Linked DNA regions of Homo sapiens. The protein of the gene in region 1 purifies or fractionates together with the protein of each later gene. This does not show direct contact. Each region holds a gene or a part of one and is shown in the gene's direction. Other genes may lie near its edges. The genes, in order: BAG2, RPAP1, LUZP1, ABL2, TTC1, STIP1 and PRRC2C.

Region 1 (3,500 bases):
AGTCTTATGTTATAGTTCCTGGCTCATAACTCCCATAACCCTTATTACAGTCTTACGTTATAATGTTGGGGTGCTTTAGGCCTCAGGAAAAAGAATCTCTCTCTCTGACCTTCTTTCACCTGCCTTACCTCTAGTCTGATTGTGGGTCAAAAGACTCTCGTTCCAGAGAGGGTCCTGCCCTATGCCCTGGAGGAGGGCATTTAGCACCCAGAGGCCAAGAAGAATCTGAATAGACTGGCCTTGCTGGGTTTCCCCATTCAGTCTGTTAGAGTGAGGGCATACTCTTTTTGTCCAATCACTTTTCTACATGGTTGTCATTCATGCTTATATAAAAGAAGCAAGCCTCCATAAGAACCCAAAAAGGACAGGGTTTGGAGAGCTTCTGGATAGCTGGACATGTGGAGGCTCCTGGAAGGTGGTGTGCCCCTTCCCCCTGTACCTCACCCTACACATCTCTTTATCCATGTCCTTTGTAATACCCTTTATAATAAATCCGTAAATATAAGTAAGTGTTTCCCTGAATTTTGTGAGCTGCTGCAGCAAGTTAAACCCAAAGAGGGGGACATGGGAACCCCAATTTGAAGCCAGTTGGTCAGAAGTTCTGGAGGCCTAGACTTGCAACGGTGGAGGGTGGGGTCTTGGGGACTGAGCTTTCAACTTGTGGGATCTGATACCGTCTCCAGGTGTAGGGAGTGTTGGAACTGAGTTGGGGGATACTTAGCTGCAAATCCCCCACATATTTGGTCACAGCCTTCTGTGTTGTTACAGTGTGAGAGCAGAGGAAAAACACAGTGTGAGAGTTTTTTCTAAAACACAGGCTAATGTTTATTCATTTAATGTACACGGACTATGTGCCAGGCCCCATGTCGTTGTTACTATTATCACCATTCTACAGATAGGGAAATTGAGGCTTAGAAGCTTAAATGACTTGTCCAAAGTCACACAACTAGAGAGTAGTAAACTCCAAATTTGAACCCAGGAAGACTGGCTCTCCAGGCTCTAATACTTTATGCCTGAATTTTCTTAAATATATCACATTTCAAAATATAGAAATGATATATGGATGAATAGATGAGCTTCCTCTAAGAGATAAAAATTCAATCTAAATTGGCCTTTAATTCAGTGGATATTGAACACCCACTATGTGTTAGGTATTGGGTAGCTCCTAGAAAGCTCAAGATGGTAATGAAGATGTTTGGGGGATGGGTTTTGGAGACTGGCAGAGGGGAAAATGATAGGACTGGGAGATTGGCTTTTCATATGTTTCCCAAAACTTATAACACAGTGGCTCCTTCTGCCTTCCTGTCAGCCTTTCACTGTGGCTTAACCTGCACCCAGGTAGTGAAGGGATGGGGTTGGGGGTGATAGGGATCATTCGTCTGGCTTAAAGTTTCATGTTAGGGTGTGCCAGTGTTCTAGGAGTCACAAAACAAGATGGCATCATAGTTAATACTGTGTGACAGCCTGTAATTTAAAAGAACACTTCATATATGTTATTTGAAACTTTAAGAACCCTTCGAGTTAGGTGGAGGGCACATACTCTCTCTCCTAGAAATGAGGGAAGTGAGGTCCAATTAGGATGAAGTGGCTTGCCTGAGGACATGCTACTGAAAAGTGGCTCTTCACACTAAAAACACTAGTCCCTTCTTTTACACCAAAATGTCTTGACAGTAAATGTAATTTAACATTTTGGTGATTAGGAAAACACTTCAGAATTTTACATTGCCTAAAAGTGATCATTATAGCATTCTTTTGATATAGGAGTATGGAATAAGAGACAGAACTATGAGTTTTAAGAACCTGTTTTAGGCCAGGCGTGGTGGCTCACTCCTGTAATCCCAGCACTTTGGGAGGCTGAGGTGGGCAGATCACCTGAGGTCAGGAGTTTGAGACCAGCCTGTCCAACATGGTGAAAACCATCTCTAATAAAAAATTCAAAAGTTAGCCAGACGTGGTGGCGCATGTCTGTAGTCCTAGCCACTCGGGAGGCTGAGGCAGGAGAATCACTTGAACCCTGGAGGTGGAGGTTGCAGTGAGCTGAGATCACACCACTGCACTCCGGCCTGGACGACAGAGTGAGACTCCATCTCAAAAAAAACAAACCTGTTTTAGAAATTATTTCTTTCAAATCATGGTATGAGCATTTGCCATTTTCCCTCCTTTTTATGAAAGCACAAATTTTCATCATTAATAAATAAGCCCACATTCATAATGGTAAGAATATAATAGCTATTAATACTATAAATATATGCCAGTGCCAATTCTAGACACATTATACATATTAACTTGTGTGTGTGTGTAATTTTTTTAGTCAGTGCTATCAGTCACTGTTAAACTCTACCTGCTTTACTTCATTTAGTCACAAGCACTGTTCCCTTATCATCCCTGTTTCATAGGCGACTGACCCATTTGCACAGCTAGTAGTGGCAGTGCTGGCGCAGTTTTCACTGCATACTCTATTAGCTGACATATTAATAGTAGCCACAGTTTGCGCAAAATTGCTGTTGTACTCCTCCTAAGTCTCCCAGCAGTTTGCCGTTTCGATACTGAGACTGCAGAGGTTTGTGAGGTGCCCAAGACCTGGGTACTAGCTGAGGATGCATGCGCTCCGGTTTTGTCTTCCTACTGAGTACTCTGACTAAAATTTCTTTTTGTCAAAGCCTACTTAGTTGTGATTTCATGCAGGGAGTTTTCCAGGAGCACAGCCCAGGCCAGCCTTGATGTGAGGAAAAGTTCTTTCCCAATTTGGACGTGTAGCTGCTTCCGGGATCTGTTAGTAAAAACAGAACTGCCCTTCTCCGCCAGAAGTGTTGCCAGATGAGATATTAAGAAACATGAAGGATAAAGTGAGATGGTCCAACATTTCTCTAACCAGAGTTCCAGACGAAAATAACAGAAGGGGAGACAGGGAATATTCAAAGATACAACAGCCAAGAATTTTCTAGAACTAATGGAAAAATTGTAGACAAAAGACGTGTATATGAGTTTAAGGATAGCAATAGCTGACAAACAGTACAAACGTTACTTAAACTAAGTAGAGATCTAGGTTCAGCTTTTTAAAAGAAAAAATGTAAAATATGAGGTAGACATATTTTAGACTGTAGAGTAAATGGATGTACCAGGGCCAAAAGGAGCATGAATTGCCTTAAGGGAGAGGAAGGGGGAAGCTAAGGAAACAATTCCTGCTGAAGCAATTGGGTTTTGAAAAAGGTGATCCCAGTAGACAAGGGTCAGGGAGAAAGAATGCTACCTGAAGAGGGAATAGGACATGAAAAGCCCATGTTGCCAAATAAACCCTGAGATCTTTACATTTTGAAGAATGACATTTTACCCTTGCATGAAATGAAAAAGGTATACATAAAAATGTATATAAGAAGTTCTATAAATGATGAAATCTGGTTTTCACAGGGATAATGCCCTGGTAATTTCTATTATGTATTAAAAAAAGCCTTGTGGGATGGGGGTGGGGGAGGGTCCCTAAAACACAAACTTTAGCAGTT
Region 2 (3,500 bases), on another chromosome or scaffold:
GCCGGCTGTCCACCAGGCCCCCGCACCCTGCCTTCAGCTACATTCCACCCGTTGCTCCCTCTCTGTGTCCATCTCTCCACTCCTACTTCCCCATTTACTATCTTCCCTTTTAATTCCTACCCTTCCTCCTCTTTCTACCTCCATATCCCCGTGGAGCTTCCCAGGAGCCATGTTGGTGGGGACCAGAGAGCCCACGCAGCAGCTCAGCCTTCCTGTAGCCTGTGTGCTCCCTCTTTATGCCCCCTACACATCGGGGCCTTCTCTCCCTTCAGAAGGCTCAGCCTGCAGAAGCCTCCAAATGTGCTCTTTTGGGCTGTTGGGATGGTGGCATTGGCCTGGGTACACAGGGTCTAGGAGAATGAATGGCTGGGCCATCAGCTCAGTGAATTCCTTGGTCCACCAGCCAAGCTCATGCCCGGAGGATTGGCTCCAGGACATGCAGCGCCTGTCAGAGGAGCTGCTGCTGCCACTGCTGAGTCAGCCCACACTGGGCAGCCTGTGGGATTCCCTTAGGTATGTACTGTGTTTGGTAGCTGGGGGAAGCAGGGGAGGAGGCAATTTCTTTCCTTGTGGGATTCCTGGGTCCAGCTCCCAGGTCCATCCCAGGGTGCAGGCCCTCGGCCCGAGGGAAACCCGAGTCCCTAGCAGGCAGCAGTGGGGTGGGCTCTGAGGAGTGTGAGCAGCACTGACCTCCACAGCCAGGCCCCCCGTTAGTCTTAGGTACAGACCCAGAAGCTCTTTCCAGCTTGGCACACGCCAGGCCAGAGTCCCCCTCAGACTCTCCACTTCACCTACAGGCACTGCTCCCTTCTCTGCAACCCGCTGTCCTGTGTGCCAGCCCTTGAAGCTCCCCCCAGCCTCGTGTCACTGGGCTGCTCGGGAGGCTGCCCCCGTCTCAGTCTGGCTGGCTCAGCCTCACCCTTCCCATTCCTCACTGCCCTCCTCTCTCTTCTTAATACCCTGGCCCAGATCCACAAGGGGCTGTGTGGCCAGGTAAGTGTGGGGTGCCTGATTAGGGGCCAGGCAAGGGGCCAAGATGGCAGGAATCAGAAAGAAAGTGGGAGGGTGGGATGGGCGCGGTGGCTCACGCCTGTAATCCCAGCAGTTTGGGAGGCCGAGGTGGGCAGATCACCTGAGGTCGGGAGTTCGAGACCAGCCTGGCCAACATGGAGAAACCCCATCTCTACTAAAAATACAAAATTAGCCAGGCATGATGGCACATGCCTGTAATCCCAGCTACTCGGGAGGCTGAGGCAGGAGAATCACTTGAACCCGGGAGGCGGAGGCTGCGGTGAGCTGAGATCACACCATTGCACTGCAGCCTGGGCAACAAGAGCGAAACTCCATCTCAAAAAAAACCAAAAAGAAAGTGGGAGGGTGTCCCATGGGGAAGGGAGGCCTTCTGCTGGCACTCATTTCCCTGAGTCTGGAGAGGGGCAGCCACCTGGGGAGCCCTAGAAGGCATGAGAGTCAATTTCTAGATCTGAACAAAATTGCTTTTCCTCAGCTGGCTGCCATATTGGCTGCCCCGGGACTCCAGAATTACTTCCTCCAGTGTGTGGCTCCTGGGGCTGCCCCACACCTCACACCTTTCTCTGCATGGGCCCTGCGCCATGAGTACCACCTGCAGTACCTGGCACTCGCTCTGGCCCAGAAAGCGGTAGGTCCCCCTGTCTGACAGGTTCTCCTGTCATCCCATTATCTCCTTCCTGTTTCTGTGGAACCCAGCCTGCTTCTGCCAGGCCATGCAGCTCCCACTTTCCTCCAGACATGCCCTGGACCTCTGCCCTTCAGCCTCACTTTTATCCTCTTCCTCACTTCTCTCTGCCACGTCCCCTTCTCCTGTACTAGGTAGTTCCCTGCTTTTCTGTCTGCAGGCAGCGCTGCAGCCACTGCCAGCCACCCATGCTGCCCTCTATCATGGTATGGCCTTGGCCCTGCTGAGCCGGCTGCTGCCCGGAAGTGAGTACCTCACCCATGAGCTGCTGCTGAGCTGTGTATTCCGGCTGGAGTTCCTCCCGTAAGTGCTTGGTTGGTGGCATCAACTCAGCCCTTTTGGACGCTGCTGCAGTTGTTAACAGAGCAGCCCTGAATTTGGAGCCAGGAGACCTAAATTCTCTTTCTTCCACCGACGACACTTAACTCTTCCGAGCTTCCATTACCTCATTAGTGAAGTGAGGATCAGGCTAACCACACCCAAGAATGATTGTGAGACTTCAGTGTGACTGCATGGCTAAAAAAATGGTATCTAAATCAGTTACACACATGTAATAGCCATCCGCTACTGAGTGTTTACTCTGTGTTTGATACTCCCTTATGTATTTATCTACATTTTAAGTATTTTACTTGGACCATGAGATAGATACTATTATTATCCTTATTTTACTCTGAGGAAACTGAGGCCCAGAGAAGTTATGTAAACTCATGCCTAGGCAGCTGGCTGTAGTGTGCATCCTCTTAACTGCTACACAGCACTGCGCGGGAAGTAGTTAAGGGAGCAGAGAGGCACAGGTCTGGACCTAGGAGCCTCCAGGAAGTTCCAAAGAGCTGGCACAGCCTCCAAGTGCTGTGGTTCCAGCCCTCATTTTTGGCTTTTGGGTCCCATTACAGGGAAAGAACATCAGGGGGTCCAGAGGCAGCCGACTTCTCTGACCAGCTGTCGTTAGGAAGCAGCAGGGTCCCTCGGTGTGGGCAAGGGACTCTGCTGGCTCAGGCCTGCCAGGACCTCCCCAGCATCCGCAACTGCTACCTGACTCATTGCTCGCCAGCCCGAGCCAGTCTGCTGGCCTCCCAGGCTCTGCACCGAGGGGAGCTACAGCGAGTCCCAACCCTGCTACTGCCCATGCCTACGGAGCCGCTGCTGCCCACCGACTGGCCCTTCCTGCCACTGATTCGCCTCTACCACCGGGCTTCAGACACCCCCTCGGGACTCTCTCCCACAGACACCATGGGCACAGCCATGCGGGTCCTGCAGTGGGTGCTAGTTTTGGAGAGCTGGCGCCCCCAGGCTCTCTGGGCTGTGCCCCCTGCTGCCCGCCTGGCACGGCTCATGTGTGTGTTCCTGGTGGACAGTGAGCTGTTCCGGGAGTCCCCAGTACAGCATCTGGTGGCAGCCCTCCTCGCCCAGCTCTGTCAGCCTCAAGTCTTGCCAAACCTCAACCTGGACTGCCGACTCCCTGGCCTGACGTCTTTCCCTGACCTCTATGCCAACTTCCTGGATCATTTTGAGGCTGTCTCTTTTGGGGACCACCTCTTTGGGGCCCTGGTCCTCCTGCCCCTGCAGCGTCGGTTCAGTGTCACCTTGCGCCTTGCCCTCTTTGGGGAACACGTGGGAGCCTTGCGAGCTCTGAGCCTGCCTCTGACCCAGGTACTTTCTCAGCCCAGCAGGACCTGCAAGGGTACCCTGCACTGGGCCTCGGGGGCAGTCCTGAGCCTTGAGGAGCTTTGGAAGACCTCAGCTTCCTCATCTTACCTCTTGGGGGCTTTGAGGGGATTAAGAG
Region 3 (3,500 bases), on another chromosome or scaffold:
CCATTTTATGTTAGTTTCTCAGGACAGATAGGTTCTAGACCACTCAGATGGTATAAATTTGAACTCTGAATTCAAGTGAGAGCAGGTCTAAGATTATAAATTCTCTAGGGATAATCCTCCTTTAACCCCTAATAGAGCCCGGGTCCTCTTATCTCCCTATATCAGGGAGGTGACTTTTTTCACTAGTTATCCTGGAGCTGTAGTTCTTCAATAATCCTTGCTTTAGATTGGGGACTGGAGTCTCATTTTCAACTTACCACCTCTATTGAGCCCAAACTCTTGCCTCTTATACCTGCATGATTGTTAGAACCCAAACTCCTTGGTTCTGGAGATCGGCAAGACCCTAAGAAGGACAGCTCAGTGGTAGTTTAAACTTACTATTATTTTTCATTTAGTTTTCTTTTCCTCTGGTTTTAGCTGGAATGTCACTTACTTTCTATGTGATCAACTATACATTTTAAGTGATTGTTACATTTTATTCAGTATTTTTAGCTGTTTTATAGTATTAGAGGTTTTCCAGGTTATCTGGTTTGCTGTAGTGGTGGAAATGGAAGTCTGTTGTTTGCCTTTTAATTTCGTAGGACTTATTGTTCATGAAAGCTGTTTAAAATACATTTATCAATCCATTCTCCTGTTTTAAAAATGAGAAAATTACATAAAAAAACTAAACCTTCCCCTTTCTCTATTTCCTTGGGGTATTATTATATGTTTGGTATATATCCCCAGTGAAATGGCTTTCAAAGAAACAAACCAGTCTTCATACCAACCTTAACATCTGGGGCATTTCTTTTACAGTGCAAAAGGATATGTTTTGTAGAAGCTGCCTGTTGGCTGGGTCGGGCCAACTCACACCTGAATTCCACTTACAAATATACTTTTGGGAGAAGAGATGTTGAAAATGGGTGTAGAGAGATTGTTTTAGTATATTGTGAAGCTCACCATTTATAGCAAGGCAGAGGGTTAATTTGTATCACTTTTAAGTCACAATAGCTCATAAGAGATAATCTTTAAAAAAAAAAATCTTAGGATTGTTTATTGCTTTGTTACCAAGATCTTCCACATATTATCTCAGAACAACACTGGGGAGAAATACGGTAGACATCATTATGCCCATTTTACCACTAAGTAAAACTGAGACTTAGTTTCCATTGTTAATGACTCTCCTGAGATTATGCAGGTTGCAGATGGTAATGATGTTATTATACCCTGCCATGAAAATTGAGGCTTCTTATATGTCTTTTTGCCATGCTGCCACTGGTGACATTCTTTATTAGGGCGAAATGAGGTATCAACTCAATATCGGCCATAAAGAACCAGTGTTTTCTTGCAGGTTTATTCAAGTCATTCATTCAACAGGTTTGAGCCCCTGCTATGATCCAGGCACCAGGAACAGATAGGAGCACTTTTCTATAACTGGGAGCTAACGTGCAGGTTTTACATTTGCTGACTGACATGCTTTCTACTTTCCTTTTGTAGATTGATGATGGTCTCCAGCTGTCAAAGAAGATTGTGGTTGCCAAGAGAAAGGTAACCATTTCTCATCCCCTTGAGTGGAATTGGATGCCTCTAGGAGCCCACATTGGCTGGCAGTAGACATGGCCGAATTTACAAGCTACAAGGAGACGGCCTCCAGCCGCCACTTGCGGTTTAAGCTACAGAGTCTAAGCCGCCGCCTTGATGAGTTGGAGGAAGCCACAAAAAACCTCCAGAAAGCAGAGGATGAACTCCTGGATCTCCAGGACAAGGTGATTCAGGCAGAAGGTAGCAACTCCAGCATGTTGGCGGAGATTGAAGTGCTGCGCCAGCGGGTGCTGAGAATTGAAGGCAAAGACGAGGAAATTAAGAGAGCAGAGGATCTGTGTCGTCTGATGAAGGAGAAACTTGAAGAGGAAGAAAACCTCACCCGGGAGCTGAAATCTGAGATTGAGCGGCTTCAGAAACGAATGGCTGAATTAGAGAAGCTAGAAGAGGCCTTCAGCAGGAGTAAGAATGACTGTACCCAGCTGTGTCTGAGCCTGAATGAGGAGAGAAATCTGACCAAGAAAATCTCCTCTGAGCTGGAAATGCTCAGAGTCAAAGTGAAAGAACTAGAATCTTCTGAGGACCGCCTGGATAAAACTGAGCAGAGTTTAGCGTCAGAGTTAGAAAAGCTGAAATCATTAACTCTGAGCTTTGTAAGTGAGAGAAAATACTTGAATGAAAAGGAGAAAGAAAATGAGAAATTGATAAAAGAACTCACTCAAAAACTAGAGCAGAACAAAAAAATGAACCGAGATTATACAAGGAATGCTTCTAATCTGGAAAGAAATGACCTACGGATTGAGGATGGCATCTCTTCCACACTGCCGTCCAAAGAATCAAGAAGGAAGGGTGGTCTGGACTACCTAAAGCAGGTAGAGAATGAAACAAGAAACAAATCAGAAAATGAAAAGAACCGCAATCAGGAAGACAACAAAGTCAAAGACCTTAACCAAGAGATTGAGAAACTTAAGACACAAATCAAACACTTTGAATCGTTGGAAGAAGAGCTTAAGAAAATGAAGTCCAAAAATAACGACCTTCAGGATAATTACCTAAGTGAACAAAATAAAAACAAATTATTAGCCAGCCAACTGGAGGAGATAAAGCTACAAATCAAGAAACAGAAAGAGTTAGAAAATGGAGAGGTAGAAGGGGAAGATGCTTTCCTGTCCAGCAAAGGCAGACATGAGAGGACTAAGTTTAGAGGCCACGGAAGTGAAGCTTCTGTGTCCAAGCACACAGCGCGGGAACTGTCTCCTCAGCATAAGCGGGAACGACTCCGGAACAGGGAGTTTGCTCTCAACAATGAAAACTATTCTCTGAGCAACAGGCAGGTTTCTTCTCCCAGTTTCACCAACAGGAGGGCAGCAAAAGCTTCTCACATGGGGGTGAGTACAGACAGTGGGACTCAGGAGACAAAGAAAACTGAAGACCGGTTTGTACCCGGCTCCTCCCAGAGCGAAGGGAAGAAGTCTAGGGAGCAGCCCTCAGTGCTGAGTCGCTACCCCCCGGCTGCTCAGGAGCACAGTAAAGCGTGGAAGGGGACTTCCAAGCCAGGCACCGAGAGCGGACTGAAGGGAAAAGTGGAGAAGACAACACGAACGTTTAGTGACACCACCCATGGATCTGTTCCCAGTGACCCATTGGGTAGAGCTGACAAGGCTTCTGACACCTCCTCTGAGACTGTCTTTGGCAAGAGGGGACACGTGCTTGGCAACGGAAGTCAAGTAACTCAGGCTGCAAACTCTGGCTGTTCTAAGGCCATTGGAGCCCTGGCCTCATCTCGAAGATCCTCCTCAGAAGGGCTCTCTAAAGGCAAAAAGGCTGCCAATGGCCTTGAGGCTGATAACAGTTGCCCGAATTCCAAGGCTCCTGTTCTATCGAAGTATCCTTATAGCTGTAGAAGCCAAGAGAACATCCTTCAGGGATTTTCAACCTCACATAAAGAAGGGGTTAATCAACCTGCAGCAGTTGTGATG
Region 4 (3,500 bases), on another chromosome or scaffold:
TAAGATACTTAGCTCAAGTGCCTGGCACACAATGAGCACACTCTATAAATGTTCTACTACTACTATTATTAACACCTAGTCTAGGGATGCACAGCAGAATCCCCTAGGGTTAAAAAACAAAACAAAACAAACAAAAAAAACTGACGGAATAGCCCCACTCCAGATCAGAATTCCCAGTGGGCTGGGGTCTCGGCCAGTGTATTCTCCAGTAATCTCGCCAGGTGTTTGAAACACCCAGTGCTATCTGAAAACTATCAGTACCCCAACCCTTTGGTTTATAGATTAAGAAACTAGCAGAAGATGGTTAAATTACTTGCCTATTGTCTCAGAACGGTTAATTAGTGGCGGAGCCAAGGCTAGAATTCAAGTCTCTTGACTTTATGGTTGTGGGGTCTTTCCACCATACCTGCTGCCATGTGAGACACTGCAAAAAAGTGGCTCAGACCGACAATCAGCCTGTGTGGTGCTGCACACTTTCTAAAGCACATGCTCCTGACACTTTGACCTTAAGGGGCTTGAATGTGGAGTAATGGGAACACAAGCCAAGCAAGCACTCAGTAGAATTCAGTCATTTAAAAAATTCAATGGGGTCATTCTTTTGGACAGACCTCAGCAACACAGCAATGTGCACTTTGTAGTAAAGAAATACCAACTTGAGTTTTTAAAAAACCTAGTTAGTCCTACATTCCCTTTTCTTTAAAAAAACTTTATTGTTCACATTATTTTAATGACTATGAGATAATGTATATGACAGCACTTTGAGAAAATATCAACTGTAATATAACTATAAGGTTGTAGTATTGTCTGTTTAAAAGATAAGACAGTTGATTCAATGTGGATGGACCCTGTGGGGTACCTGAAAATGTAGATACGTAAGAATCACCTCTGTCATTTATCACATTTAGAAATATGAAACTGCTTAACAGGTATGAGCAGGTATAGCAAGTGTTTGCTAAAGTTGTAGTTCAGAGCTGAATTACTTCAGGAAACTAGGGACCAACTTTTTGGTTTAATTCCGATCTTTAAAAAGTAAGAATGTGTACTCACTCCAGAACACAGAAGCTCTTCCAAGGACCTTGACTCAAGAAGGATGAGGTCCTCTTACTCTTCTCCATTTATCCACTATATGCTTGGCCATTTATCCTAAATGTGGTGGGAACAGACTTGTTATCTGTTGATGTTGACAGTGTCTTTTTTAACCTATGTCCTGCATAGTTTTGTTAGGTTTACAGGGGGAGGTGGATGGCCATAAAACCAGTGCACTTTGGGAATTACTTTTCTAGGATTTCCTACCAGTTATAAATGACATTGACATTTGTCATCTTTTTTTTCTTTTTCTAAAAAGAATAGCTGAATTTAATTCACCTATTATAAAATACTCAAAAGTAAATTGCCTTGGTGGCCACTTCTGAATTATAGCTACATTTCATTATGACCCCTTCTGCTCCCTTCCATTTTGCTACTGATGTCATTCTTGTTATCAGGCTGTGCCCCTACCAGGAGTTCATATTGGGTTGACAGGGTTATCTATATTTTTGTTCTTGATTTTTGAGTTTCATCATCTTGCATTAAATTGTTCCACCTGGATTTGGGGTTCATCTCTGTGCCCTAAGGATCTGCTATGACCAATCCTCTTTTTGTAGGTGGGTCTCTGGCTTAAGTATTGATAGGCTTCAGCGGTTTGTGTCTCTGTCTTAGCTTGTATCAAGCCAGTAGTAGCTCACTTCCTTTGTAAATTCCTGCTTCAGTCTGGGATCCGTAGGAGTATGTGAGAACTTCTGAAACGTCTCCAACTCTTAACAGTCAAGATATCTATATCATTTGGATAGAGTTCTGGTTTTCCAACTACTAGACTTAAAGAAATTCTGGCCGGGTGCGGTGGCTCACGCCTGTAATCCCAGCACTTTGGGGGGCTGAGGCGGGTGGATCACGAGGTCAGGAGATTGAGACCATCCTGGCTAACACGGTGAAACCCCACCTCTACTAAAAATACAAAAACTTAGCTGGGCGTGGTGGCGGGCGCCTGTAGTCCCAGCTACTGGGGAGGCTGAGGCAGGAGAATGGCGTGAACCCAGGAGGCGGAGCTTGCAGTGAGCCCAGATCGCGCCACTGCACTCCAGCCTGGGTGACAGTGAGACTCCGTCTCAAAAAAAAAAAAAAAAAAAAAAAAAAAAAAAAAAAGAAATTCTAATGCAAAGCTTGCTTTTTTTTTCTTTTTTCCAGCAAGCCAGTAGTAATAGTTATTGTTACTTGCTCTGTTCAGCACAACTGTAGTTCACTTGAACTTCACTGTCATTCCCTACGCTCCTCTCTTACTGAGAAGCATGGGTGGGATTCAGGGCTGTGGGACAAGCTACAGCCTACTCTGGAGCACTCACCCCCATGACTCAGTCCAGCCTGTCTCTTGGGAAGTTTATTGCAATGTGCAGACGGATGAATTTCTGCTTTTCATGCCACCTCTCTGAGGTATGTATTCTATCTTGAGTATGTACAAGATGATACCTTTTGGCTGGGCACAGTGGCTCGTGCCTGTAATCCCAGCACTTTGGGAGACCAAGATGGGCGGATCACTTGAGGTCAGGAGTTTGAGACCAGCCTGGCCAACATGGTGAAACCCCGTCTCTACTAAAAATATAAAAATTAGCCGGGCGTAGTACATGCCTGTAATCCCAGCTACTCCCGAGGCTGAGGCAGAATTGCTTGAACCCAGGAGGCGGAGGTTGCAGTGAGCTGAGATCGCGCCGCTGCACTCCAGCCTAAGTGACAGAGTGAGACACGTTAAGAAGAAAAAAAAAAAAAAGGATACCTTCATTTCTGACTCAATATCCTAGATCCAAAGGACAGGAAATTAGGGAAGGCTTCACCCTGTGGGATCAAGATAAGAAGATCCCATACTTCTTCCCAGGTAAGGAGGCCTGTGGCAGGTCATGATTCAAAGCTGACTTGGAATGGCAGAAACTGCTGAGAGGCCACCCTTGGAGATTTGTGCCTTCAAAGATGGGTTTCATGAGTCTCAGAGAGGAAAAGACTTGTCAGCTGGGTTGATTTTGCATGATTATTGAACTAGAGCTGGTAGACACGAGCTTCTCAGATGGCAGTGGCCAGATCCTCCATCTGTGAGAATCCGCCACTTGAAGTGGTTTCCTGAGAGTGTTCACTTGGCAGTTGCTGCGTTTCTCAAGCCCACCTGGCGAGGTCTCGCCGGACCCTTCCCTCCAAGTGCACTTACTTCTTCATCCCCATGTACATCTCTAACTTTGAAATTGTTTACCTCTCCTACAAAAATCTTACCTTTTGACCTGAGCAGAGTAGCAAAGCCCTGTTCACTCTGAGGGAGCAGCTGGCGTGTTGAAGGGGAAAGGCCAGGCACAGCACTGTCCTCAGACCACACCATATTTGGAGCAGAATTGTGATACATGTCATCTGTGTCTATTCTGGAAGGTTCTTTGTTCATCACTGTACTCGCATCAGCAAATTTTCAGGGTCCTACCTGTCACTCC
Region 5 (3,500 bases), on another chromosome or scaffold:
TGCATCCAGTAACCCTAATCAATACAGTAGAGATCATTACAATCTAAGCATCTTTCTTATGGGTAGTACTAGGTAAATATGGCCATATTCTTATATTTTATTTTTTTCTGAATTCCTTTAGAATAGCCCTTCCCTCAGATACGTTATATCTTAAAATGAATTGTTATTTGTACCTGCTGTGTGTCTGGCACATAGTATGTACCATAAAAATTAGATTCACTCTATACTTACCTTTTAGTTTCCTCACTGAGATTCATCAAGTGCTCTGTTTAATCCATAGTGTAATAATAAGACATTTGGGAAATACCCGGTCTCATCAATAGCATATTGACAAATCTTTTCCAGAGAAAGAATGTTTTTATTTTGGTTCCTGTATTAATCCATTTTCACACTGCTATTAAGAATTGCCTGAGAGTGGGTGATTTATAAACAAAAGAGGTTGAATTGACTCACAGTTCCACATGGCTATAGAGGCCTCAGGAAACTTAACAATCATGGCGGAAAGTGAAGAGAAAGCTGATGGTTTTAAAGTGTGGCACTTGAAAACCATCAGTTCTCATGAAAGTGAACTCACTATCATGAGAACAACATGGGGGAACCGTCCCCATGATCCAGGGTCCGTCCCTTGACCCGTGGGGATATTTGGGTAGGAACACAGATCATATCAGTTCCTCATGTTAAAAGGACCAATTGTTTAGGTTCCAGGCTTCTCTTGTGCATGAAATACCCTGCTAACTGTATTTCCTCCCTTTGAAATTACTTAATCAGAATGCTAACTGTATTTCCTCCCTTTGAAATTACTTAATCAGAAGCTTCAAGAAGGAGGAAAGAGCCCAGCACAGTGGTGTGCACCTATAGTCCCATCTACTCAGGAGGCTGAGGCAGAAGGATCACTTGAGTCCAAGAGTTCAAGGTTATAGTGTGTGTTGATCACATCTGTGAATAGACACTGCACTCTAGCCTGGACAACATAGTGAGACCCTATCTCTTTTTTTTTTTTTTTTTTTTTAAGGGACTTTGGTAGATTTTCTGTTTTTGGGGTTTTTTTGTTGTTTTTGTTTTAAAGCACTGTCAAAAGGTGGCAGGCATACAGACTCTTCTGGTTTGGCTTGTGCCAGTTATATTGTTAAGATGTTCCACAAAAAAGTGCACACACTCAGCATGCGTCTACTTTGCTTTGCAGGATAACATTCTCTCAGCCTTTGTGTTTGATGAGTTTTTGGCCATCTATGTGAGTTTCTGAGTTGTTTGAATAAGCTAAGAAAAGACAGACTTATTTATTTAGGTTTCTTCACATTTTCCTATGTTAACCTGCTAACAGTATACTGCCCTAACCCTACAGACTTGGCTTGTACCCACAAATGTGCTCTCCTAGCATACTGTGTCTCCTTCATGACACAAACCATGAAGGGTTCTTATAAGGATTAAAGTACTTATTTCACAGAAAATAATAGCTTATTTATTGAGCCCTTATTTGCTAGTCACTGTATGGGCAGCTTTATGTATATTATGACATTAATCCATTAAACAGTAGTCCATAATACTATTAAAGCTTCATTTTTGAAATGAAGAAACTAAGGCTCAGAAAGATTCTGAAACTTGTCCGAGGCCACATAACTAGTAAGTACTAGAAGCTACAATTTGAATTTACACTGGTATGCACACCAGTGGGTATGTTATTTAGTTTCATTTCTGAGTAAGTAGAAATTAAGTGATACTGTAATTATCATTCCATTGCAAAAGATAGAAACATAGAAAGCAAAGGACATGCCAAGAAGACCTACATTTTTTGTTTTAAACATCAAGAATGCAATTGATAATTAGCCTGATGGTCATGTGTTTTTTTTCCTCTATCACTGTACAAGGTTTTGGTGAAACTGATGCAGTTCTCAAAAGTCAGACTGTTGCCTATTAAATAGACTTGTGCATAAGGAAAGCTCACCTTTTTGTTCACTTATAATAATATTGTGAGAAATTATGTAATTCTCTGATGTCTTTCAGAAAAGAAGAGAAGAGAGCACTAGACTAAAGGAGGAGGGAAATGAACAGTTTAAGAAAGGAGGTAAGACGACTTTCAGCACTGATAATCTGGTCATCTTGACTCCTCATCCTGTTGTAGAGTCTGTGAAGAAACCCCAAAGAACATCTGAAGAAACCCCAAAACCAGACTTCACAATACAGTGTTGCTTCCCAGTACCTTGGCATTTTGAGTTTTTAACCAGGCCAAATTATTCATCTGATGGTGACCAGTTACCATTTGTCTCTTGGCACATGCATAGTCTTTCTGTAATCCACTATCTGTTAGTCTAGAATCAGGGGTAAAACTCTTGAGCTCTTGCTTTGGAAAACACTAACCTGGAATATTAAAGGTTATGTGCTGCATTGCTGTGAAAGCAGAGTCGCCGCTCCTCACTTGCTGTGGGGCTGTGAAAGCAGCCTGACTGCTCTGGTATGGCCTAGGGCTGCCTGTCCTTTGGTTGCTCTTTCTTTCTTTCTTTCTTTTTTTAAATTCTCCAAACTGCTTCAGAAAGGTTGCTCTTTCATGTGCCATTTTCTTTGGATGCCTTAAGTAGGGAGATTCTTCATGTCCTTCTGCATTTTCTACATTTGCTTAGAAATAAGTTGGTGGGGTTCATTCTGATAATTTGGGGTAACTATTTGATCTTAGAGCAAAAGTCTTCTGTCACATCTTAAAGTGTATATGCTTCAGAAATCTAGGAGTGTTAACATTTTCCGCTAGTTATTTTCAGGTTTTTAATTTTTTTCTTATTGTTTTCCAAAAGTTACCCTATTACCTGATTTCAGATTTTAGGGTTTTTTTTTTTTTCCTATATCTTGGTTTAGTAATCATTAATACTGTTTTCTAATAGAATAAACACTTCTAATTTTGGAAGCATATTTTTTGTATGTTAATATTAAATATTTCAAACCTGAGAAAGGAGTACATAGGCAATTTTCTATTAGTATCCTGACCATAATTCTCTTTTTCACCATTTTCTCTTTTAAGGTCTTGATTTAAATATTGATTTTTACATTGTTCCTTTTAGCTCTATCAAATGTCTCTCTTCAAACATTTCACGGATGCTGTTTTAGCCAGGTTGACTGTATGAAAGCACAACAGATTTAATGAAAACAAATATGTATAATTTTTTTCTTTATCTCAGGCCATGGATCCCAGAGTTTAGTCTCTTTCCTCTGTCCAGTTCTGTAACCTCCTTTGAAAACTCCTTTCTGAATTGCCCAGCCAAATGAAAACTGAACATTGAGGGAATGCCAGGACTCCTGAGTATTGAGGGCTTGTCACTGACAGCATGTTCAGCTGTCAGTTCACCAAGCACAGCCTGTGAGATTGGCACAAGCAAGCACTGTTCCTTTAAAGAGAGAAGAAAAGAAGAAATGATTTTTACTGCGCCAGACTTAATAGACTGTTACCATCTTTTAACTCAAAACCTTCATCCTATGAATGGAAAACAGTGCTTCTGAGATCCTGTGGAATATAG
Region 6 (3,500 bases), on another chromosome or scaffold:
AGATCACCTGAGGTCAGGAGTTCAAGACCAGTCTGGCCAACATGGTGAAACCTCATCTTCACTAAAAACACAAAAATTAGCCAGGTGTCATGGTGGGCGCCTGTAGTCCCAGCTACTCGGGAGGCTGAGGCAGAAGAATCGCTTGAACTCGGGAGGCAGAGGTTGCAATAAGCTGAGAGCTCATCACTACACTCCAGGCTGGGTGACAGAGCGAGACTCCATCTCAAAAAAAAAAAAAAAAAAAGCTTCACAAGAGCATTCCTAGGAGTAATGTGTAGCAAAGAGTGAGCTGCGGGAGTTGCCCTTCCCGTGGTCACCACAGCGGCTTCATTGCTGCCAGTGTGAATGTTGGTCCTAGCAAGACTGGAAAGTTGAGAGTAATTCACGTCCTTGTCGTGATCCGAAGAATGTTGTCCACATCAATCCCTAGGCCTTTGCTTCCTGGCTGGACATGGTGTGTGGTTGGGAGTGTCCGCTAAGCAGCACTCTTTTAGAGCAGAAGGCATGTGCCTCAACGATTTCATTTCCCTCCTTGTAAACTGGAACAGCAGATTGTTGCCAAATTTAGCACCTTGAAATGGGTAAGCGTTGGTTGTTTAGGGTGTCTCAGCTGGAAAAAGGCCCTCCAGTGTGGGCGGTAGTGAGCTTTGCTGAAGACTCGTGCCACTCAGCCGCTTCTCATCCTCTCACCACCCCCTCTGCTATGGTTCCCTGACAACTAAGACCCTGAGGCAACCACAAGACTGACACCAGATCTGCTGCAGCCTCAGAATAAAGCCTGGTCCAAAACTCTGCTGTCCTCACCGGTTGCTTCAAGTCGAAGGGATTTCCTCTCCCCTAAAGAAGCGCTCTGCTTCCTGACAAAGATCTAGGAGAGTAGGTGGAAAAGGGGGAGTTTCAGAGCAAGCAAAGATGAAGTTAGTTTTCATTCTAACGGCTGATACTTTATTGTCTATAGCTGACTGATGAAGAGGCCTTCAGGAGAACTTGATAGAATTCTATTCATGTTAGTTGCATTTCAGAACTTGTGACAGATCATAGATTCTTGCTTTGTCACCTGAGTTAGATTTGCTCAGCACTCACTTCTAAACCTCATCTAGGCACTGAAAGAAAAAGAGCTGGGGAACGATGCCTACAAGAAGAAAGACTTTGACACAGCCTTGAAGCATTACGACAAAGCCAAGGAGCTGGACCCCACTAACATGACTTACATTACCAATCAAGCAGGTGAGGCCCAGAAACAAGGGGCAAGGGAATTGTTGGGTGTCTCTGAGGGAGGAAGCAAAGACTGACTGTTCCTTCTTAACCATCCTGCCTGGCAGCGGTATACTTTGAAAAGGGCGACTACAATAAGTGCCGGGAGCTTTGTGAGAAGGCCATTGAAGTGGGGAGAGAAAACCGAGAAGACTATCGACAGATTGCCAAGTAGGCTCAACCTTCCAGAATACCTTGAGTAGCGCGGAGGGTTTGCTGTCCAAGACTTAAGTTTCTCTGCATGGGGAGGAGGGCTGCTGGCCATAGAATCTGCTGTGTTAAGAAAGGGCTGGCAAGAAGGTCACCAGAGACAAGACAAAAGGTGTTGAAGGCAGTGATGCGGGCCTTTCTAGCTGCAGGTGTGTTTTTCTGCAGGAGCTGACTTTATCTCTCTGTCCTAAGCAGTCCTTGTCCCTCTTTCTTTATCAGAGCATATGCTCGAATTGGCAACTCCTACTTCAAAGAAGAAAAGTACAAGGATGCCATCCATTTCTATAACAAGTCTCTGGCAGAGCACCGAACCCCAGATGTGCTCAAGAAATGCCAGCAGGTGCGTAGGAAAAGAATAGGGGTATTTTCTTGTTTTCCTAATAATTGAGCCATTGTTTCTTACTGTTTTATTTAATAATGAACTTGACTTTTTTTTTTTTTTGAGATAGGGTCTCACTCTTTCACCCAGGCTGAAAGACAGTGGCACAATCGTGGCTCACTGCAGCCTCAACCTCCTGGGCTTCAGTGATCTTCCCACCTCAGCCTGAGTAGCTAGGATTACAGGCACGTGCCACCACGTCCAGCTAATTTTTTTTTTGAGATGGAGTCTGTTTGTCACCCAGGCTGGAGTGCAGTGGCATGGTGTCTGCTCACTGCAACCTCCGCCTCCCAGGTTCAAGCAATTCTCCTGCCTCAGCCTCCCGAATTGCTAAGACTACAGGTGCACGCCACTATGCCCGGCTAATTTTTGTATTTTTAGTAGAGATGGGGTTTCATTATATGGACCAGGCTGGTCTCAAACTCCTGACCTCATGATCCACCCACCTCAACCTCCCAAAGTCCTGGGATTACAGGCCACTGCGCCTGGCCACGTCCAGCTAATTTTTTTATTTGTAGAGAAGGGGTCTCACTGTGTTGCCCAGGTTGGTCTTGAACTCCTGAACTCAAGTGATCCGCCCTCCTCAGCCTCCCAAAGTGCTGGAATTATAGGCGTAAGCCACTATGCCTGGCTGAACCTGATCTTTTTTTAGGTAGTGGCTTTGGTCATCTTACATGATTCTTTCTCTGTCATTTAACAGTGACAACATGTAGGAAGTGATCTGGTGTTTTTTTTTGTGGTTTTTTTTTTTTTTTTTTTGCAGTTTTTGGTATTGGCCAAGATTTCAACCCTAAATGTGTTAATATTGAGGGCCTGTGCATTGAGAATGTTAATAGTTCTTGTAACATAACATTTTGACTATTTTATAAAGACTGTAAATTTCTTTTAAAATCTTGCCAGCAATAGCCGGGTGCAGTGGCTCACGCCTGTAATCCCAGCACTTTGGGAGGCTGAGGTGGGTGGATCACAAGGTCAGGAGTTCAAGACCAGCCTGGCCAGGATGGTGAAACCCCGTCTCTACTAAAAATACGAAAAAATTAGCTGGGCGCAGTGGCAGGCGCCTGTAATCCCAATTACTCAGGAGGATGAGGCAGGAGAATCGCTTGAACTCAGTGGGGCGGAGGTTGCAGTGAGCCGAGATCATGCCACTGCACTCCAGCCTGGGTGAGAGTGAGACTCCATCTCAAAAAAAAAAATCTTGCCAGCAATAGCCAGTCGCAGTGGCTCACGCCTGCGATCCCAGCACTTTGGGAGGCCGAGGTGGGCGGATCAAGAGGTCAGGAGATCGAGACCATCCTGGCTAACACGGTGAAACTCTGTCTCTACTAAATAAATAAAAAAAATTAGCCTGGTATGGTGGTGGGCGCCTGCAGTCCCAGCTACTCGGGAGGCTGAGGCAGGAGAATGGCGTTGAACCCGGGAGGCAGAGCTTGCAGTGAGCCGAGATCGCGCCACTGCACTCCAGCCTGGGCGACAGAGCGAGACTCTATCTCAAAAAAAAAAAAGAAAAAAATCTTGCCAGCAATACTCTGAAAATTAAAATCCTAATCTGATTTTTTTTTTTTTTGAGATGGAGTCTCGCTCTGTCACCCAGGCTGGAGTGCAGTGGCGCGATCTCGGCTCACTGCAAGCTTCCGCCTCCCGGGTTCACGCCATT
Region 7 (3,500 bases), on another chromosome or scaffold:
TGTGTAGTGTTTCTGAAGATCATTCCAATTTAGGACTGAAGCATAAATCTGGTTTCCTTCTATTTAATTTAGCATGCTACGCTTACTCTTTGGACATATTCTCTGTATTCATTAGGGCATTTTGTAACCTGGTTCTGTACTCAATTGTATGCTGTAATTTAGTATTAGATGTTGAAATTGGTAGGTTCTTTTTTGAGATAGGAACTTGCTCTGTTATTCAGGCTGGAGTGCGTTGGTATGATCTTGGCTCACTGCAGCGTTCACCTCCCAGGCTCAAGTGATCGGCTTACCTCAGCTTCCTGAGTGGCTGAGACTACATGCGTTCACCACCACACCCCGCTAATCTTTGTGGGGTTTTTTGTTTTGTTTTTGTTTTTGTTTTTGTTTTTGAGACAGAGTCTTGCTCTGTCTCCCAGGCTGGAGTGCAGTGGCGCGATCTCAGCTCACTGCAAGCTCTGCCTCCCGGGTTCACACCATTCTTCTGCCTCAGCCTCCTGAGTAGCTGGGACTACAGGCACCCGCCACCACGCCCAGCTAAATTTTTGTATTTTTAGTAGAGACGGGGTTTCACCGTGTTAGCCAGGATGGTCTCGATCTCCTGACCTTGTGATAATCTTTGTATTTTTTATAGAGATGGGGTTTTGCCGTGTTGCCCAGGCTGGTCTTGAACTCTTGGGCTCAAGCAGTCTGACTGCCTTACCTCCCAAAGTGCTGGGATTATAGACGTGAGCCATCGTGTGCAGCCACTTGGGATGTCTTTATTGTAGAGTAGGTGTGAAGAAATTTAGGTGTATCTACAATGCTTATATAATATAGCTAGATGTAATTTTTCCATTAGTGAGATGTTTCTTTTTAACAGTATTTTAGGGAACATTTTTAAGGCCAAGATAAGGAGAAATACAATAATACAAAGTTAACTTTGAAATGGCGCACAATTGGTGATGACTGTAATAATTTATAGCCATACAGTTGGAACTTCCTGCCCTTTTATGGGCTATATTTTTTTGGTAATGTTTTATAATGTTTTATAATTATTTGTAATTAACTGGGACAGATAAGCTTACTCAAGTGTACTCTTTCATTCTAGGTGGAAATTACTGGTCTTGATGGATTAGAAATTCACATCAGCATGGTCTTAACTTTGTTTTTCCTTAAGGAATAAACTTCATTTATTTATTTCTATTTTTTATTTTTATTTTTTGAGAAGGGTCTCGCTCTGTCAGCCAGGCTGGAGTGCAGTGATGCAATCACAGCTCACTGCAGCCTTGACCTCCCAGGCTCAAGTGATCCTCTCACCTCAGCCTCCTGAGTAGTTGGACTACAGGCATGCAGTACCATACCCGGCTAATTTTTGTATTTTTTGTACAGACAGGGTTTTTTCATGTTGCCCTGGCTGGTCTCAAACTCCTGGGGCCCTAGTGATCCTCCTGCCTCCCAGAGTGCAAGGATTACAGGCATGAGCCACCGCTTCAGGCCCATTTTTTTTTTTTTAATGGAGTTTTGCTCTTGTTGCCCAGGCTGGAGTGCAATGGTGCCATCTCAGCTCACCGCAACCTCCGCCTCCCGGGTTCAAGCGATTCTCCTGCCTCAGCCTCCCTAGTAGCTGGGATTACAGGCATGTGCCACCACGCCCAGCTGATTCTGTATTTTTAGTAGAGACGGGGTTTCTCCATGTTGGTCAGGCTGGTCTCGAACTCCCGACCTCAGGTGATCCGCCCTCCTCGGCCTCCCAAAGTGAGGATTGGGATTACAGGCGTGAGCCACCGCACCCGGCCCTATTTATTTTTAATTGTGGCAGAAACCACTTAGAACATTAGATATATCCTCTTAACAAAAATTTAATCATATGGTACCATGTAGTTAACTGTAAGCAGTGTTATACAGCAAATCTCCAGAACTTTTTTTTATCTTGCATGACTGAAACTTTATACCTATTTCCTATTCTTACCTTTACCTATATTTCCTATATTTACCTTTACCTATATTTCCTATATTATACCTATACCTATATTTCCTATTTCCCCCTACTCCTAGCCCCTGGCAGCCACCATTATGGTTTCTGCTTTGATGAAGTTGATTATTTCATGTTCCTCATGTAAGATATTTGTCCTGACTGACTGACTTCACTTAAGCATAATGTCCTCAGGGTTTATCCATGTTGTAGCATATGACACTATTTCCTTCTTTTTTATCCCTGAATAATATTCTATTGTATGTGTATACCACATTTTCTTTATCCATTCAGCTATTGGATATTTAGGCTGTTTCCACCTCTTGGCTATTGTGAGTAATTCTCCTCTAAACTTTTTATATAGCGAGAGAAAGATTCTCATTATGGTTAAGAGTCATTGCTTTCTGTTTTAGAGGGATTATTTTGCTATATACTTACGCATGGGAAAGATTGCTTTGTTGATTATACCTTTGAATTCTTATCATCATAGGTCTGAAGCTGCGTTGGACCAGGAACAGATTACTGCTGCTTATTCTGTAGAACATAATCAATTAGAGGCTCACCCAAAGGCAGACTTTATCAGAGAATCAAGTGAGGCACAAGTACAAAAGTTTTTAAGCAGATCTGTGGAAGATGTTAGACCTCACCATACTGATGCAAATAATCAGTCTGCTTGTTTTGAAGCACCTGATCAAAAGACCTTATCCGCTCCTCAAGAGGAGCGGATTTCAGCTGTAGAAAGTCAGCCTTCCCGGAAAAGAAGTGTTTCCCATGGATCTAACCATACGCAAAAACCAGACGAGCAGAGAAGTGAACCATCTGCAGGCATTCCTAAAGTAACCAGCAGATGCATTGATTCAAAAGAACCAATAGAAAGGCCAGAGGAGAAACCAAAAAAGGAAGGCTTTATACGATCTTCTGAAGGACCAAAACCTGAAAAAGTATATAAATCTAAATCAGAAACTCGTTGGGGCCCACGACCAAGCTCTAACAGAAGGGAAGAAGTTAATGATAGACCTGTGAGAAGATCAGGTCCCATTAAAAAACCTGTACTTAGAGATATGAAAGAGGAACGGGAACAGAGGAAGGAGAAAGAAGGAGAAAAGGCCGAAAAGGTCACTGAAAAAGTAGTTGTAAAGCCTGAAAAGACGGAAAAGAAGGATCTTCCTCCTCCCCCACCACCACCTCAGCCACCAGCACCAATTCAGCCACAGTCAGTTCCACCACCAATTCAACCAGAAGCAGAGAAATTTCCTTCAACAGAAACTGCAACTTTGGCTCAAAAACCATCTCAGGATACTGAGAAGCCTCTGGAACCTGTGAGTACTGTTCAGGTAGAGCCTGCAGTTAAGACTGTAAACCAACAGACTATGGCAGCACCAGTAGTCAAAGAAGAAAAACAACCTGAGAAAGTCATCAGCAAAGACCTTGTTATAGAGAGGCCTCGACCAGATTCAAGACCAGCAGTTAAAAAAGAATCAACTTTGCCTCCCAGGACCTATTGGAAAGAAGCTAGAGAGAGAGATTGGTTTCCAGATCAAGGATACAG

Evidence for each region.
Region 2: the proteins of BAG2 (region 1) and RPAP1 purify together in Homo sapiens (affinity purification with mass spectrometry; 2 studies listed by BioGRID and IntAct, with this or other methods). This does not show direct contact.
Region 3: the proteins of BAG2 (region 1) and LUZP1 purify together in Homo sapiens (affinity purification with mass spectrometry; 3 studies listed by BioGRID and IntAct, with this or other methods). This does not show direct contact.
Region 4: the proteins of BAG2 (region 1) and ABL2 purify together in Homo sapiens (co-immunoprecipitation; 2 studies listed by BioGRID and IntAct, with this or other methods). This does not show direct contact.
Region 5: the proteins of BAG2 (region 1) and TTC1 purify together in Homo sapiens (affinity purification with mass spectrometry; 2 studies listed by BioGRID and IntAct, with this or other methods). This does not show direct contact.
Region 6: the proteins of BAG2 (region 1) and STIP1 purify together in Homo sapiens (affinity purification with mass spectrometry; 3 studies listed by BioGRID and IntAct, with this or other methods). This does not show direct contact.
Region 7: the proteins of BAG2 (region 1) and PRRC2C purify together in Homo sapiens (affinity purification with mass spectrometry; 2 studies listed by BioGRID and IntAct, with this or other methods). This does not show direct contact.

Annotation. Positions count from the first base shown.
Region 1 is NC_000006.12:57,175,326-57,178,825, forward strand, and holds part of BAG2 (BAG family molecular chaperone regulator 2), read left to right. Parts: intron 1-3,500. UniProt on the Homo sapiens protein: Co-chaperone for HSP70 and HSC70 chaperone proteins. Acts as a nucleotide-exchange factor (NEF) promoting the release of ADP from the HSP70 and HSC70 proteins thereby triggering client/substrate protein release.
Region 2 is NC_000015.10:41,520,258-41,523,757, reverse strand, and holds part of RPAP1 (RNA polymerase II-associated protein 1), read left to right. Parts: intron 1-403; coding exon 404-513; intron 514-797; coding exon 798-993; intron 994-1,507; coding exon 1,508-1,660; intron 1,661-1,877; coding exon 1,878-2,020; intron 2,021-2,610; coding exon 2,611-3,367; intron 3,368-3,500. UniProt on the Homo sapiens protein: Forms an interface between the RNA polymerase II enzyme and chaperone/scaffolding protein, suggesting that it is required to connect RNA polymerase II to regulators of protein complex formation.
Region 3 is NC_000001.11:23,092,357-23,095,856, reverse strand, and holds part of LUZP1 (leucine zipper protein 1), read left to right. Parts: intron 1-1,476; 5' UTR 1,477-1,595; coding exon 1,596-3,500.
Region 4 is NC_000001.11:179,100,678-179,104,177, reverse strand, and holds part of ABL2 (tyrosine-protein kinase ABL2), read left to right. Parts: 3' UTR 1-3,500. UniProt on the Homo sapiens protein: Non-receptor tyrosine-protein kinase that plays an ABL1-overlapping role in key processes linked to cell growth and survival such as cytoskeleton remodeling in response to extracellular stimuli, cell motility and adhesion and receptor endocytosis.
Region 5 is NC_000005.10:160,033,139-160,036,638, forward strand, and holds part of TTC1 (tetratricopeptide repeat protein 1), read left to right. Parts: intron 1-2,001; coding exon 2,002-2,062; intron 2,063-3,500.
Region 6 is NC_000011.10:64,196,171-64,199,670, forward strand, and holds part of STIP1 (stress-induced-phosphoprotein 1), read left to right. Parts: intron 1-1,100; coding exon 1,101-1,227; intron 1,228-1,322; coding exon 1,323-1,425; intron 1,426-1,683; coding exon 1,684-1,804; intron 1,805-3,500. UniProt on the Homo sapiens protein: Acts as a co-chaperone for HSP90AA1. Mediates the association of the molecular chaperones HSPA8/HSC70 and HSP90.
Region 7 is NC_000001.11:171,537,530-171,541,029, forward strand, and holds part of PRRC2C (protein PRRC2C), read left to right. Parts: intron 1-2,441; coding exon 2,442-3,500. UniProt on the Homo sapiens protein: Required for efficient formation of stress granules.